Linked DNA regions of Homo sapiens: region 2 is linked to region 1. Evidence: fine-mapped expression QTL. A gene starts in region 1. The other region holds a variant in brackets. All regions are shown on one strand. Distances are between the middles of the regions. Region 1 holds the start of MTA3 (metastasis associated 1 family member 3). Region 2 overlaps MTA3 (metastasis associated 1 family member 3).

Region 1 (2,904 bases):
AGGGGGAACTCACGTCCCCATTTTATAGACGAGGAAACAGGTCATAGAGTCAATGTAATTCAATAGTGCTTTATTTTTTATTTTTATATTTTGCCTCAGCTATGCACAGTTTTTTCATCTCAATACTTTGTGATAAGTGACCATCACAAATGTCATCACCAAACCACCAAAACACAACCTTCTTTTCTGGGGGCACCTCTTAGCCCCGCACAGACCTTAAACCCAGAGTCGACAGCACACAGCTGTGTATCACCACACATTCCAAACAAGCCACCACACCAAGAAATCTTCTTCGTGTTTATTATGCAGCAATGTCTGGGAGTACTTTGGAATGGACTGGCTTCTCTAAAGAAAGTTATTTGTGTTCATTTGGGGGATCGCCAGCTAAGATTCAACGTTGTTTTTTTTTTTTTGTATCTGTGAGAGTAGGAAGGCCGTGAAAACAGAGGTTGTTTAGAGAATTGGCCTGGGACAATAACCATTTAGAAGCTTTAGGCACGTAACCAGTTAAGTGTCCATCGACATGAAACTGATTGAATACAATCTCCTCTGTTTGGGGGTGGTGGTGATTGTGAACTGTAGGGCCCTGTTCCCCCATGGACAAAGGAAGCCCCTCACTCCTAAAGGTCCCTTTTCCCAGCAGAACAGGCCCTGCATATACAGTGCCCGTCTAGAGCCAGGGCCTCCATCTGGGTGTTGGACAGTTGGTTCTGCTCAGCCCAGTTTTGGGGTAAACGATGACGCAGTTAGGGTGGCCTAGGAAGGGAGTTTTTCTACCTCTGTCCCCAGCTGGGTCTCTGGCGAGGCGGGAAGCACCCGGAATCTTCCTGGCCCTAGAGCCTGCAGGCTCCAGGCCGGCCCCTTGAATCTCACCGCGAGGAAGGCACCCTGCTGCCTGCACTTATTTGCATCCAAGAGTTTGCATTGAGACTGGCGCTTGCCTACTAGGGCAGCCACAGGGGGGTTCCCCAGGGACAGAGGTAGGGAAGGAGGACCTGTCTTGGGGTGGACAGGTGACGGGGTACCCTGGGTGGGGGAAGAGGTGCTGGGGAGAGGCTAAGCCCCAGCCCCCACTCTAATTCTCTAACAGCCCCTGGTCCGCATTTGAGTGCAGGCCTCTGCCTCAGCCAGGACCCTGACCCCAGGGCCCTCCACTTCCAGCAAGGCCCCCCACCCTCCCTCCCACTCCCACTCCCTTTCCCCTCCCCCTCCCCCCCAATTCCCGCTGGCCCCGCAGCGCTCCAGCCTCCCCGGGCCTCCCCCGGCCCGGCCCACTCGGCCTTGCTAGCCTGGCGCTGGGGGCGGGCACCAGCCCCCACCCCTCGGCGTACCATCCCCTTTACTTCCCCCACCCCCTGTCCCCTCCCTTCCCTCCCTTCCCCCCCGTGGCGAGGCAGCAGCGACGGCGGCGGCGGCAGCGGCGGTCGCGGCTGAGGCTGAGGAGGAGGCGGCGGCGGCGGGCGGGGCTCGGCTCGGGCTCCGCGGGCGGGCGGGCGGACATGGCGGCCAACATGTACCGGGTCGGAGGTAGGCAGGCTCGGCCCGACCCGGCCCGTGTGGGAGCGGGTTCCGGGAGCGGGGGGCCGGGGCGAGTGCACGCCAACTGCCGGGAGCCAAGGGCGCCGGGGCTGAGGTCGCAGTGGGCTGGGGCGCCGGGGCCCGCAGAGGGGCCGGGACTCCCCACCCCCACCCATCCCTTCCCCTCCCCCCACGCGGGCTCGCGAGGGCCCGGGGCCACCTTCACCCTCGCACCCCGCCCAGTGTTTAGGGCCAGGCCTCTACTTGGGGGTACGAATTACCAGACACCCCCCTCCACGAAACCCTCATCGGGGTAGGGCCCGTCGAGCCCCCTGAGAAGGTGGCCTTCTTGCGTGGCTTCTAGGCGCTGGAGAGGATGAGGGGACATCCCCTCTCCTGCTTCTTCCCCACTCAGTGGGAGCCTGGGGTGGGGGTGGGGGTGGGGGCGGTGGGGGCCCAGCCAGGGGCCCAGCTGGACGGGCCTGTTTGCGTGCCGGGGCCCTGCACCTCCCCTTCCTCGGCCCCCCTCCTTTTCGTTTCTGGTCCAGTCCCCCACGAATGGGGCTTCGTGGGAGCTGGGAACCTCAGCCGGAGGTGGGGAGTTGAGCTCTGCCTGGACGTTTGCTCTGCTGCCTGCCTCCTTCCCAGTCTTCTGCGGAAGAGAGAAATAAGGTCAAACAAACTTTCTCCCTACTCACGACGCCCTCCTCCCTCTTTCCTGGTAAAATAATAATTCAGATAAGTGGCGTGTTTGTATGAGAGACTGGCTCTTCCTTCTCTGCTCATTAGCCGAGCTTCTGATGGATGGTGGTGGGAATGGCCTGGCTAAATGAGGCCACTTTGCAGAAGAGAGCGGCGAAAGAGCCACTAAGATAGACAATAACAATGCAGCTGCCTTTCGGATAAACACACAGTGGGAAGTTTCCAGCAAGCCTATTAGATGAGAGGAAAAGCCACACTTGAAAAATTTTATCCTTTTAGTTGAAAGCCTGCAGCAATTTCTTAATCACAAGACATTAAATGGATCTGGATTAAATATGGTAAAAGGGTAAAAAAGATGCTGATATCACCCCCAGAACACTTTGCCTCTTAGAAGTGATCCCCCGGCCCCCTTTTTTCCTCATCTTCCCAGGTAAAACTGTGGAAAAGTTTGTCAGCGTTCTTCCTCTTAACCTGTTCTGCTCATCTGATTTTTTTTTTTTTTTTTAAGTAGTGATTGAAATGTAGGTTGGACTGTGAAGCCTTTCTCCCTGCTCTGAATGTGTCTTAGGTCAATAGTTTTATGTGAGAAGCAGCCTGCAGGGCAAATTGTATTGGAGGAAAAAGATGTGGAAGTAGTTATAGTACAGAGGACACATGTTTAGCGTGCCCTGACTACACAGTGAT
Region 2 (2,904 bases), 39 kb after region 1:
CGGCTGGCCGGGTGGGGGGGCTGACCCCCCCTCTCCCTCCCGGACGGGGTGGCTGGCCGGGCTGAGGGGCTCCTCACTTCCCAGTAGGGGCGGCCGGGCAGAGGCGCCCCTCACCTCCCGGACGGGGCGGCTGGCCGGGCGGGGGGCTGACCCCCCCCCACCTCCCTCCCGGACGGGGTGGCTGCCGGGCGGAGACTCTCCTCACTTCCCAGATGGGGTGGCTGCCGGGCGGAGACGCTCCTCACTTCCCAGATCGGGTGGCTGCCGGGCGGAGAGGCTCCTCACCTCTCAGACGGGGCAGCTGCCGGGCGGAGGGGCTCCTCACTTCTCAGACGGGGCGGCCGGGCAGAGACGCTCCTCACCTCCCAGACGGGGCGGCGGGGCAGAGGCGCTCCCCACATCTCAGACGATCTCCTCACATCCCAGATGATGTGCGGCCGGGCAGAGACGCCCCTCACTTCCTAGATGTGATGGCGGCTGGGAAGAGGCGCTCCTCACTTCCTAGATGGGATGGCGGCCGGGCGGAGACGCTCCTCACTTTCCAGACTGGGCAGCCAGGCAGAGGGGCTCCTCACATCCCAGACGATGGGCGGCCAGGCAGAGACACTCCTCACTTCCCAGACGGGGTGGCGGCTGGGCAGAGGCTGCAATCTCGGCACTTTGGGAGGCCAAGGCAGGCGGCTGGGAGGTGTAGGTTGTAGTGAGCCGAGATCACGCCACTGCACCCCAGCCTGGGCACCATTGAGCACTGAGTGAACGAGACTCCGTCTGCAATCCCGGCACCTCGGGAGGCCGAGGTTGGCGGATCACTCGCGGTTAGGGGCTGGAGACCGGCCTGGCCAACACAGCGAAACCCCGTCTCCACCAAAACCAGTCAGGCGTGGCGGCGCGTGCCTGCAATCGCAGGCATTCGGCAGACTGAGGCAGGAGAATCAGGCAGGGAGGTTGCAGTGAGCCGAGATGGCAGCAGTACAGTCCAGCTTCGGCTCCGCATGAGAGGGAGACCGGAGGTAGAGGTAGGGGTAGGGGTAGGGGTAGGGGTAGGGGTAGAGGTAGAGGTAGAGGTAGGTAGAGGTAGAGGGTAGAGCTCTGAATGTTTCTTGAGGTTCACTTTTACCCCGCAAGTAAAATAGGGTGGATACAAAGATAAGTGACCTGTCATTGTTCTCAAGGGATGCAGTGAAATCAGTTAACTGTAGAGTAGAGCAAAGCATACTGTGAAGTACCTTAAGCGTATGTGGGTGCTGCTTTGTAGCAAAGAGGAGTCTCCCGCTGGAGATTGGTGAGAGTCTCATGGATCAGACTCTGGCTCAGAGGCATTGTTCAACTTTATTTATTTATTTATTTCGACATAGGGTCTTGCTGTATCGCCCAGGCTGGAGTGCAGTGGTGCGATCTCAGCTCACAGCACCTTCCACCTCCTGGGCTCAAGCGATCCTCCTACATCAGTCTCTGAGTAGCTGGGACCATGGGCTTGGCTAATTTTTGTATTTTTTGTAGAGATGTTTGGTCTTGAACTCCTGGGCTCAAGCGATCTGCTTGCCTCAGCCTCCCAA[A/G]GTGCTGGAATTGCAGGCATGAGCCATCACACCTGGCCTGTCTAACTTTAAATTTATCTTTTGAATTCTCTTTACTCTTCATCCACTCTAATAATTGATTTATCTCACACCGAGGTGGACAGATTGCTTGAGCTCAGGAGTTCGAGATCAGCCTGGGCAACATGATGAAACCCTGTCTCTACTAAAAATACAAAAATTAGCCAGGTGTGGTGGCACACGCCTGTAATCCCAGCTACTCAGGAGGCTGAGGCAGGAGAATCACTTGAACCCGGGAGATGGAGGTTGCAGTGAGCCGAGATTGTGCTACTGCACTCTAGCCTGGGTGACAGAGCGAGACTCCGTCTAAAAAAAAGTTATACAAATACATAAATGAAATTTGAAATTTAACTGGTAAATTTTAAAAAGTGGTTTTCATTAGTGATCTGCATCATGAGAGATGCCGTTGTGATTTTTGTCTTTGGTTAGGTTGGATTTCAGTGATTTTGGTCCTTTTTATGGTGAACCAAGGGATCGTATAAGAACGTAAGATTTACTGTTGCTGTTGTAGAGCTGGTTGCTGTTTTAGCTCTGTAGGGTATGCATTAGAATTCAGTTAGCTGTGTCTTATACAACAACAATTTGTCAAATCCTAATTAGGTAAAGAGTGTAATTTTGTATGTGATATTTTCTAGTGCTAATAGTGCCAATGCAGCAGCAACTTTATCAATCTTCACTGGTGAAATGTTATTAGACCTGCAAGTAAATGGCCCTTTTAGTGCTATATTTCTCTTTGAGTAGTTCATTAAAAAGAATATCCAAAGAATTTTAAATTGCTTTATTCTTGCTTTGAGCTAGGTGCATCTTTTTCTAAGTTACTGTTTAAGGTTCATTTTCAATTCAGTTTTAAAAGTTTGAAAGTAGAAAAGATCTGATACTTACTCCATTCATTACCCTCATGCTATTCATAAAGAACTACTTCAACAAGAGCATTATATTTGATAAAATCCCTTCTGTGAGGTTGGGTGTGGTGGCTCATGCCTGTAATCCCAGCACTTTGGGAGGCCAAAGCAGGCAGATCACTTGAGCCCAGGAGTTCGAGACCAGCCTGGGCAACATGGTGTAACGCTGTCTCTACTAAAAATACATAAAGTTAGCCAGGTGTGGTGATGTACGCCTGTAATCACAGCTACTCTGGAGGCTAAGGCACAAGAATTGCTTGAACCTAGGTGGTGGTGTTTGCAGTGAGCTGAGATTACACCACTGCACTCCAGCCTGGGCGACAGAGCAAACTCTATCTCCGAAAAAAAAGTGAATTAATTTTTAAATTGATATGTAATATTTGTGTATATTTTTGGGGTACCATCTGCCA

The links. PIP is the estimated chance that this variant, and not a neighbour inherited with it, causes the effect. A credible set is the group of variants that fine-mapping cannot tell apart.
Region 2: its variant is the best candidate, but not a certain one, in a credible set for the expression of MTA3 in whole blood (TOPMed, PIP 0.63).

What each region holds. Positions count from the first base shown.
Region 1 is chr2:42,567,247-42,570,150 of GRCh38, forward strand. It overlaps MTA3 (metastasis associated 1 family member 3), which reads left to right and starts at 1,386. Exons shown (of 17, transcript NM_001330442.2): 1 at 1,386-1,527. The coding sequence starts at 1,500. RefSeq lists an enhancer at 634-773 and silencers at 1,014-1,063, 1,124-1,173, 1,444-1,603, 1,664-1,743.
Region 2 is chr2:42,606,050-42,608,953 of GRCh38, forward strand. The region is part of intron 3 of MTA3 (metastasis associated 1 family member 3); the gene reads left to right. All of the region lies in intron 2 of LOC105374555 (a long non-coding RNA gene), which reads right to left. Among named protein-coding and RNA genes, the nearest start is that of MTA3, 39 kb to the left of the region's middle. RefSeq lists an enhancer at 60-811. The variant A/G (reference allele first, on the strand shown) is at 1,557.